2 separate regions of the Homo sapiens genome follow, and region 2 is linked to region 1. The links come from fine-mapping of genetic effects on gene expression. A gene starts in region 1. The other region holds a variant in brackets. All regions are shown on one strand. Distances are from middle to middle.

What was found. PIP is the estimated chance that this variant, and not a neighbour inherited with it, causes the effect.
Region 2: its variant is fine-mapped to the expression of CKB in whole blood (INTERVAL, PIP 0.91).

Annotation. Positions count from the first base shown.
Region 1 is chr14:103,520,733-103,525,972 of GRCh38, reverse strand. It overlaps CKB (creatine kinase B), which reads left to right and starts at 3,143. Exons shown (of 8, transcript NM_001823.5): 1 at 3,143-3,207; 2 at 3,468-3,672; 3 at 3,796-3,950; 4 at 4,023-4,155; 5 at 4,539-4,710. The coding sequence starts at 3,480. RefSeq lists enhancers at 2,016-2,901, 4,678-5,240 and silencers at 4,265-4,314, 4,455-4,524, 4,535-4,904.
Region 2 is chr14:103,549,558-103,555,030 of GRCh38, reverse strand. It overlaps LOC124903392 (a long non-coding RNA gene), which reads left to right and starts at 1,550. Exons shown (of 2, transcript XR_007064357.1): 1 at 1,550-3,076; 2 at 3,391-5,473. It also overlaps the pseudogene RNU7-160P. The variant A/G (reference allele first, on the strand shown) is at 3,263.

The DNA.
Region 1 (5,240 bases):
CTTGCCATAGGCAGCCCTGCCCTCTGGATCTCATATCTGCAGTTCTGACCTTGCCTGTGGAGGGAAAGTGTAGGGGAAAGAAAGAGATCAGACTGCTACTGTGTCTATGTAGAAAGAAGTGGACATAAGAAACTCCATTTTGTTCTGTACTAAGAAAAATTCTTCTGCCTTGAGATGCTGTTAATCTGTAACCCTAGCCCCAACCCTGTGCTCGCAGAAACATGTGCTGTGTTGACTCAAGGTTTAATGGGTTTAGGGCTGTGCAGGACGTGCTGTGTTAAAATGTGTTTGCAGGCAGTGTGCTTGGTGAAAGCCATCGCCATTCTCCAGTCTTGAGTACCCAGGGACACGATGCACTGCGGAAGGCCGCAGGGACCTCTGCCCAAGAAAGCCTGGGTGTTGTCCAAGGTTTCCCCCGACTGAGACAGCCTGAGATATGGCCTCGTGACAAGGGAAAAACCTGACCATCCCCCAGCCCAACACCCGTAAAGGGTCTGTGCTGAGGAGGATTAGTGAAAGAGGAAGGCCTCTTTGCAGTTGAGATAGGAGGAAAGCATCTATCTCCTGCTCCTCCCTGGGAATGGAATGTCTCGGTGTAAAACCCGATTGTACATTCTATTTACTGAGATACGAGAAAACTGCCTTATGGCTGGAGGTGAGACATGCTGGCGGCAATACCGCTCTTTACTGCACTGAGATGTTTGTGTAAAGTCAGACATAAATCTGGCCTACGTGCACATCCAGGCACAGCACCTTTCCTTAAACTTATTTATGACACAGAGACCTTTGCTCACATGTTTTCCTGCTGACCCTCTCCCCACCATTACCCTAAAGTCCTGCCACATCCCCCTCACTGAAATAGTAGAAATAGTGATCAATAAATACTGAAGGAACTCAGAGACCAGTGCCGGCGCGGGTCCTCCATATGCTGGCACCAGTTCCCTGGGCCCACTGTTCTTTCGCTATACTTTGTCTCTGTGTCTTATTTCTTTTCTCAGTCTCATCCCACCTGACGAGAAATAACCACAGGTGTTGGGGGGAGGGGCTGCCCCCTTCAGGAAAGGGGAAAGGGGGTCCTTTCCCATGGGGGACCTGGGAAGCAGGTTAGGCTCTCAGCCAGGAGGGTGAGAGAGGGGAGGGTTGGCCTTCTGAGAAGCTGCAGTTGCTGAAGACAGAGGAAGTCCTGAGTGTGGCCCCCAAGTCTCTCCCTCCCCCCAAGTCTGCCTCCAGGGGCTGCAGCTATCCCTTCCAGAAACAGAAACTTAAGCCCTTCAGGTTTTGTGGGGTAGCAGGTGGGCAGCTGCAGAAATTTCTAAAACTGGGCGAAGAGGCTGCACGGGGCACAGAGTGCAGGAATTCCAGGCTTAAGGGACACCTGCTGTCTGGCCAGCCCAGAGGGGCCGTTTGCCTTTTTACATGGGTTGGTTTTATTAAGTCTAAAAAATGCTGGCTTGGAACAGGACGAAGCATGCCAAGGAGCAAAGAGGCATGTGTCTCCTCTGCAGTGACCATGGGGATGAGACAGGAGAAAAGGCCCCCACACCGATGCTCACATAGGCAGAGGCGAACAGGCTTCCCCTGCCTTTGGGCCTTGGCTCTGGTGCCTTCTGCTCTGAGGCACCTATTCGGGGTCCCTTATACCTGGAACGCCACTGCTCTGTGTCCCCCTGGCCCCAGCAGCACCGATCTGATGTCATCTGGTTTGTTGGGCTGCTGGCTCATGGCCAGTCTTCTTCCAGCAGCAGGCGCTGTGTACCTCGCTGCCTGCTGTATCCCCAGCGGCTGGCACCTGTTAGGTGCTCATTGTGCCACTGCTGGAGGGATTTGTATCAAATATACCCACAGATAAGAGTTCCCCCCTTCTTTGCTTTATTCACAGAGCAACAGATGAGGGTCCCTGATGGATATTAACCCCACATCCTCCACTTCCCCCTCTTAACAGCTGCATAATATTCCACAGCAAGCAGATGCCTCCCTACCCTTGGCCACTCCCGCCTGATGGGGCATCGGGTTGTATCCAGTTATGTTTGTTTTTCCCTCCACAGATCTCTTGGTCCATTAGTGGAGAGAACTGAGACATCCTTTCTAAGGGCTGCATTCCTAGAAGGGGAGATTGCTGGGTCACGGAGTTCGAACATTGTTAACGTTAATAGATTCTGCCAAATTATCTTGCAAAAAGCATGCAGCAATTTAAGTTGCAGGCAGCGTGTGGACGCCTGTCTTCCCGCATTCCAGCTCAAAGCCAGCAATGGCTGGGGTCGATCTGGGAGTGTTGGGGGTAGGGGCAGGTGGAGTCACTGCTTAATTTGCATGATTCTGGTTATTCGTGAGATCAGTTTTTTTTTTTAATCGCACTTATGCTTATTGTTTATTAGCGTTTCCTCCCATCTTTGCCTGAAGTCTCCGGGGACTGCCTTTGGGGGTCGGGTAAACTTGTCCCCTGCGAAGAGGGCCCAGGGTTGGGGTCTGGAAACTCCGAGGCTGCACTTGCCAGCGGCCTCTTAAGGCCACAGCGTCCCCGTGGTTTCTGGCTCGCAGCCCCCCGAGACCCAGGACTTGTCCAAGGTCAGGGCACCGCGGGTGCCCCCGGGCTGGGCCGCAGCCAGACTGCGCTTCCCGCGCGCCTTCGCTTTGCACCAGGATCGCCCAGGAAACGCCTGCGGGCACCTTGAGGAAGGTCGGCGGCTCCGGGCCAGCTCGCACTGGCCGGGGGTGGGGCGGGGGCCGTACCTGCTGCGGAAGCCCCGAAAGCTTTCGCCCGGCCCCTCGCCGCCGCCGCGGGGGCTGGCTGGACTAGGCGGGCAGGCTCGAGGATGCGGATGAACCCAAGCGTCCTCGAGTGCCCGGAGGCTCTCCGCCTCAGTTTCCCGCCCAGAGGCAAGGGCGTGCGAGGGGATCCAGATATCCAAGGACCTGAGGTTTCGGCCTCGAGGTCTTGGGCGGGGGACTGGGCAGGCTGCGCGGGGTCCCAGCGAGGGGACAGCTCGGGTGGGCGGCCAGGGTGTTGGGGGCTGCGGGCGGCGGACAAAGCGGCGGCACCACCCCGCGGCGCGGGCCAATGGAATGAATGGGCTATAAATAGCCGCCAATGGGCGGCCCGCGTTGTGCCCCTTAAGAGCCGCGGGAGCGCGGAGCGGCCGCTGTTCGCCTGCGTCGCTCCGGGAGCTGCCGACGGACGGAGCGCCCCCGCCCCCGCCCGGCCGCCCGGTGAGTGGGCCCGGGGGCCGGGGGCGTCCGCGCCCGGGCTAGGGGCGCTGCGTGCAAAGGGGGCGCGTCGCCTGGAGCGCGCGCCGGACCGGCCGGGGGTCCCCGGCGATGATGGCGCTCCCCGCGCGCGCTGCGGACCCCGCTGACCTTGGCCGCGTCCCGGGGGGCGCCGGGGGGCCCGGCGGCGGGGGCCTGAGTGGTACGCGGGAGCCCGGGAACCCCGGCGTGCCGGTCCCCTCTGACCCCGCGTCTCCCCGCAGCCCGCCGCCGCCATGCCCTTCTCCAACAGCCACAACGCACTGAAGCTGCGCTTCCCGGCCGAGGACGAGTTCCCCGACCTGAGCGCCCACAACAACCACATGGCCAAGGTGCTGACCCCCGAGCTGTACGCGGAGCTGCGCGCCAAGAGCACGCCGAGCGGCTTCACGCTGGACGACGTCATCCAGACAGGCGTGGACAACCCGGGTACGCGACCCCTCGGGGCCGGGGTCCCGGCCCCCCCTCCCCCCGCGCAGCCGCAGGGTCCTCAGCAGCGCGCTCGGGCCCGGCAGTGACGTCACTGTCCCCGTCCCGCGCCCCCTCCCCCAGGCCACCCGTACATCATGACCGTGGGCTGCGTGGCGGGCGACGAGGAGTCCTACGAAGTGTTCAAGGATCTCTTCGACCCCATCATCGAGGACCGGCACGGCGGCTACAAGCCCAGCGATGAGCACAAGACCGACCTCAACCCCGACAACCTGCAGGTGCGGGGCTGCGGGCGGGCCGGGCGGGCGGGGCCGGGGTCTTCGGGCGCTCACTCCCGTCTCGCCTCCCAGGGCGGCGACGACCTGGACCCCAACTACGTGCTGAGCTCGCGGGTGCGCACGGGCCGCAGCATCCGTGGCTTCTGCCTCCCCCCGCACTGCAGCCGCGGGGAGCGCCGCGCCATCGAGAAGCTCGCGGTGGAAGGTAGGGGCCGGGCGGGCCGAGGGGCGGCGGCGGCCGCGTCCCCCTCCCGGCGCGGTCCCCGCCCGCTTTTGTTTACGTCGCCCGGGAGCGGCAGCCGCCGTCGCGCTCTTATCTGCGCGCGCCCGGGTTCAGTTTCCCGGAGGGACCGAGGGACGGAGGCCCAGCCCCGCGCCCACAGCGGCCTGGGGCCCAGGGAGGGCGGGTCCTGGCGCGGGGTCACCGCCTGGGACCGTCGCCCGGGCCGTGAGGACTGGACGCCCGCAGATCCGGGCGGGTGGGGCCCTCTGACGTCCCCCGAGGTGGGGCACGGGGGCGGGCGGGTCCGCGCTGCGGGCTGGAGGGGCGGGCGCGGGAGCCGAGCGTCCTGAGCGCACCCCTCGCAGCCCTGTCCAGCCTGGACGGCGACCTGGCGGGCCGATACTACGCGCTCAAGAGCATGACGGAGGCGGAGCAGCAGCAGCTCATCGACGACCACTTCCTCTTCGACAAGCCCGTGTCGCCCCTGCTGCTGGCCTCGGGCATGGCCCGCGACTGGCCCGACGCCCGCGGTATCTGGTGCGTGTCCCTCTGCGCCCTCTCGCGGCGTCCTCCCTCCCCGCTACCTCCGCTTTCCCTCTCGCCCCCCTCGCGGGGGTGGGGCCCCTCGCGGCGAGGAGGAGGAGGAGGAGGAGGGAGGGGCCGGCCGCGCTCCGGGTCTGGGTTCCGTGCCGCGCCTCCTCCTGCGCCGGTGACCTTGGCCGAGCAGGTGCGTTAAGGGACTGGGCCCCGGCCCGTGGGGGCTCAGGACTCAGCAACACCTCCCCACCCCGAGACGTGAGGTGGGGGCGGGGCTCTCTGGCGCCTCTCCCCGACGGCCCTGGGAGCTGGAGCTCTTTGTTTTCTTTTCTCACTCCTCCGCCGCTGGGATTCTACCAGGGGCTGGTGACGCCAAAGCTTCTCCAGGGGCAGGGCTCCTACCCCCACTGTGGGGGGCGGGTCGGGCTGTCCTGGCGGTCCCTGGCCCCGCCCCACCTCAGGCCACAGCGCATGATGGCAGCTGGGGTTCTCCTGCTGTGAGGCGTCCCGGTTCCCCCGCCCGCCCCGTG
Region 2 (5,473 bases), 29 kb before region 1:
GGATTGAAGAATCCATCATGCCACCAGTGGCCATGGAGAAATTCCAGTTTAGTCAGAGAAGGGATGAGGGGAGTCAGCTGCGCCTGGTCTGTCTCAGGTGTGAATGTCTGGTGTCAGGTCAGGTGTCAAGTGCAAGCCGGAAAAAGACCAGTGGCTTAGGGAGGGGTCTCACTGGCCCTTCAAGGCTGGTTAGAAGTAGGACAGGAGACGGTGGGTGTGGCACCGGGAATCATGGCACTTTGGGAGGCTAAGGTGAGAGGACTGCTTGAGCCCAGGAGTTCAAGACCAGCCTGGGCAACACAGACCCCATCTCTACAAAAAAATCAATATAATTTTTTTTTTTTAAAGAAGAAACCCTGGAGTGGGCTGAGCTGGAACGAGGTGGCAGGGGCTGAGGGGCAGTGCCCTGGCAAGCTTGGCTCTTGATTCTGGGTACAAGCTGAGCCCTAATTGAAGGCCTCTTATATGCAGGTCTGGGGTCGCCCCTGCTGGTCAGGACATGTCTGAGGGCATCTTACAAAATGTTTTGGGTTCTTTTGTTTTTTTATTGAAACAGGGTCTTAATATGTTGCCCAGGCTGGTCTCGAACTCCTGGGCTCAAGCGATCCTCCTGCCTCAGCCTCCCAAAGTGCTGGGATGACAGACATGAGCTACTGCACTTGGCCTTGCTTTTCCATTTTGTGTAGTTATCATTGCACAGATTTTGGGGTGGGGGTGGGGGTCACCAGGCAGCCTTAGGACTCTGTGTCCCTAGTTCTAGGTCTCTTCAGCTTGTGCCCTTTTTTTATGCCAGTCACCAGCAGGCTATTTCAGGCTATTTCACCTATTTGCCCTCTTGGTCTTTCTAAAAGCACGGCTCTGCTCATATGGCTTTTCTGAATGAAAACCTTCAGTGGCCTCCACTATTTCACCCAGCCACGTCCCTGCGAGGCCCTGAGTGGTGTGGTCCAGGCTGCCCCAGCAGCCCCATCTCCACTGCCCAGCCATCTGTGCAAAATGTTCTATGTACATTTTAAGCTCTCAGCACCCCTTGAGGCAGGTTTTTCATACTATCTGTTTCATAGGTGATTCTGAGATTCAGGTGGTCCCTTGCCCAGGGAACTGCCCAGAGTCACTTGGCAAAGGAGGGAAGGACAATTTGGTTACAGTTCATGAGTCATGGACTTACCTGGAGAGTTGAAGAAATGGCTGGTGCTTGGGGCCCACCCCAGCGATTCTGGTTTCATCGGGATAGGGTACAGTCTGGACATCAGGATTTCTGAAAGCTCCCACCTCAGGGAATGCTGGCCAAGTGGCTAAAAGCAGGCTGGGGCCCAGACTGCTAGGTTCACATCTCAGCTGTGCCACTTTCTCTCTCTTTTTTTTTTTCTGTCGCCCAAGCTGGAGTGCAATGGCACAATCTCGGCTCACTGCAACCTCTGCCTCTTGGGTTCAAGCAATTCTCCTGCCTCGGCCTCCCAAGTAGCTGGCACTACAGGCGTGCGCCACCACGCCCAGCTGATTTTTCTATTTTTAGTGGAGACACGGTTTCACCATGTTGCCAGGAGGGTCTCCATCTCTTGACCTCGTTATCTGCCCACCTCAGCCTCCCAAAGTGCCAGGATTACAGGTGTGAGCCACCGTGACCGGCGAGCTGTGCCACTTTCAAAGCTGAGCCCTTGAGCTTCAGTTTCTTCTGAAAGGTGGGCAGTACTTAGCACTTAGGTTTAAAGGATTCAGCTGGTTAATGTGAAACATTCAGCTCCAGTATTATGTCTCAAAGTCACTGTGTCAGTGAACCGGCATCCCTCATCGTGGAAAGACTGTCTTAAACGAGTGCTTTATTCTGTCCGTACGTCTTCCACTTGTGAATTACAACTGCAAAAATGTATCTTTCTATAGTAAGGTTGAAGTGAAGTGAAGCTATTTCCCCGCTTCGGATTCTTTGGTCTTTCCGGAGCTGCCAGGGGTCTGTGACCCCATTTGGTAAGGACTCAGTGCCGCACACTGCCTCTCCATCTCTGGTCCCCGCTGCGGTCACAGCGAATGGTAGGTTTTCAGTGTGTGTTAGAACCCTTTCAGTCTCGAGCCGTTTCCCTGTGGCTGCATTTTCAGATGAATGTTGCCAGTTCCCCACCTTCTGTCTCCATCTCACACTGGTGTCTGCCCCACCTCAGTCCTCTGTGGGTGTTGGGACATGGAGCTGGGTGGTTCTGAGTGCTGAGCGGAGAGTAAGGTCATCAGATGACTTTGCTGTTCATGGCCCTGGGTTCTGGTGCTCTCATCCGAAGCCCTCCCTGCCCATCCCTTGGGCCGTGGAGCGTTTCTTCTGTTCCTGTACCCTATTAATAGCTCTCCTAACACAGTGGCTCACCTGTCTCTCCCATGCCAGGCCACAGTGCCTTTCAAGGCAAGATCTGTCTCTTCATCCATGCAGCCTCAGGTCCTGGCAGTAATGGGCACTCACATGCCTTTTGGATGAGCTGTTCTTTGGAAATAGTGTCCTTAGCTCCTGGCATGTAATAGGCATTCGGCGAATACTTGCTGAATAAATGAGTGGAAAAATCTCAGATCTTCAGACAGCTTCAGAGAGTGTTTAAAATCCTTCTGCTTATCGGATCCAAAGGACCTTCTCTCTGCTGCACCTTCCACCGGGGCTCTGGGGTGGCCAATCAGGATCTCTCACCTGAGGCCACCTCATCCCCCTGAGAGCCCGGGTGGAATCAAAAGTGCCTCCTACTCGGTCCCTGGGGCAGGAGGGCCAGCAGGCCAGAGCGGGTCACACCCTGCTGTAGAGAAGCAAGGCCTCTCCAATTCCAGAGCCCTTGGCTGGCCACCCAGCCACAGAGGCCAGGCAGGCTGGAGCCTCTGAAGATGAGGGGTGGGGATGTTGGCTTCTGTCTCTGAAATTCGTCTGCTCGTGCTTGTGATGCCGAAATGAGCAGTTAGCTCTGTGATTCCTGAGCCTGGGCCGACCTCCATGTCCTCGGTGCTGTTGGAAAGGACCAGGGAGGGGCAGTGTCAGGGCCACCGCGTGCCTAGTGTGCCCTTCAGACCGATTTGACATGAAGAGGAATCTTCCTGGCTGCTGGGTGAGGTACTTGAAGGAAACCCACTAACCCATGGGGTGAGGAGGACTGAGGGAGGGTAGCTGAGCCTTGGGGTGGAGTCTCCATTTAACTAGCATCTGCCGAGTACCTGTGAGGTGCTGGGGGCAAAGGCGTGGACCTGGGGCAAGGGCCCCTGCAGAGGTCACGTGGCTTTCTGAGGGATCCATCGCAAG[A/G]AGCATTGGCCGGATGTGATGGGGTGGTTGAGAAGCCCAGGGAGGCTTCCTGGCGGAGGTGGGAGGTTAGCTGGTCACGGACAAGAAGTGGAACGTGACAGGAAGTGCAGGAGTTCGTCTCTTCCCAGGCAAGACCGTAGTGGTGAACACACTGTTCCAGTCGGCGGGCTGGGAGCTTCATCAGAGTGAGAGTGCTGGCAGCCACCACTGCTGCTGGAGCCGGGAGGGCCAGGCAGGGCCAGCCAAGCTGGACCACGAGCTGCTGCGGCAGGGCTGGGGCCTGAGAGTCCTCCGAGGGACAGGAGGCAGGTCCGCTCTCCACAGGGTGAGGGAGAGAAGGGGACCTGAGAGCGTCGGGGTAGGGCCTAGGAGCTGCACTTCAGCCATGAGGAGGGGCAGCCGTGGATGGTTTTTAGCCTGGGGAGTGACGGGCCATGCTTCCCTTTGGGACGGCCCCAGCAGGACAGTGCCTCGCCAGTCCACATGAGCCAGCGGCCGCTGTGCCATGCCTGCTCTTCCAGGCCGCCTCCACCCCCACAGCCGCGCCCCTGACTCTCGTCCCTTGTGGACATCGGCCCTTCCGACAGCTTGTGTGTGCCCCGTGATGCCCCCCCCCCATCCCCACCTAGCACTGTTCCAGGTGGGCGGGCATCCACTCAGCCTCTCCCTGGTGCTCACCCAACTCCCTCCCAGACAGAAATGAGACCAGCCGAGACACTCTGTGGGAGGCTGTCCATGAGCCCCAGAGCCCCAGGAGGGCCCTCCAGGCTGGTCCCACCAGCCCAGGGTGCAGCACCGCCTGGGGTGAGGTGGCGGCTGCAGGTGGCTGGCAGTTCAGATACTGGAGCTCCCAGTGGGAGGGATGGCTAGCCACTCACCCAGAACCTTCCCGGAATGGGGGAGGAGAGAGCCCACTTGTGGCAGCATCAACAGGATTTTGAGAACACAGTTCTGGAGCTGAAGGCCTGCAGCGAGCCTGGTGCAGGATGAGGCGTCAGACCTGGGCCCCTCCCAGGCCGCTGGGTTCCAGTGCTCCCGACAGGCCCTCTGTGCCCAACAAGCCTCACCCTGGTCATGAGGGGCCCAGGGCAGGTTTTCTTTTCAGGCTGAGAACTGGGCCTCTGGGCCTGGTGAGGGGCAGTGGCCCAGTGGTGGCCACCTCCCAAGGCTCCTCTGTGGAGTAGGACACCCCTGCCAGGAAGGGCCGGTGTCCCAGCCCAGCCCTGGGGTGGGGAGCAGAGCCTCTCCCTAGGAGCCTGGGCTTCAAGCCTTCTCTCCCCACCCAGCCAGCCTGGTGGGGGAAGGAACCACCTCGGATTTGATTGAGGAAGACGTTTTTTTTTCTTTTTCTTTCTTTATTTAAAGGGCTTTCCAGTAAAAATCGGAAAACCTGCTAGTCAAATTCTAGAAGAGCTGTGACACTGGAAAAGACATTTTTGTAGCTAAGTTCATGAACAAATTCACACGCTCCACACTGCCGCCTTCTCGGCCTCCCTTTCCCCAGCCGATCTCCATCACCTGCCCCTGCCCTCAAAGCACCGAGTCCCCCAGGGCCTGTGCCTCAGGGCAGCTGCCAGGACTGCCAGTCCCCACCAGGGGCTGTCTCCCTCCCTGGGGGACACGCTCAGAGCTGCACTGGCTGGGGAGGCTCTGGGCGGAAGGGTGGAGAGACAAAGAGGTCTTTGTGTCCCTCTGGCTGGATGGGAGGACAGACAGGTCAGCCAAGGCTGTGTGACTGGTGAGGCCCACCCAAGGTCCCAGACTCCTGCCACCACCTACCTGGGGCCCTGACATGTGCAAGACATCTCTGTGTGCCTCAGTTTCCCGGCTGCGAGGTGGGGTCAGGCCACGCACCAGCCTGCCTCCCCACCTGGCTTCCCGCCCGGCGTCACCAGCCCTCACAGCTTCATGTTCCTGCGGTTTACCACTTTGGTGTCTTTCCTGGCCCCTTCCCCACGGGCACGTGAACTCGCCGCATCCCCAGTGCTTTCACAGACTGGTGAGGGCTGGGAAGGGCAGACCCACAGAGGGCCATAGCCGTGTGGGGTGGGGCACCCAGGACTGCTGCGTGGACCAGGAGGGAGGAAGAAGACCAGAAGCCGTGTCCTGGCAGCTCGGAGGCCCTGCGCCTGCAGAGGCCGCTGCGGGGCAAGGTCAGGCGGGGCCGGGATCTGGCTCTGGCCTAGGTGAGGGGTGGCCAGGTGAGCAGAA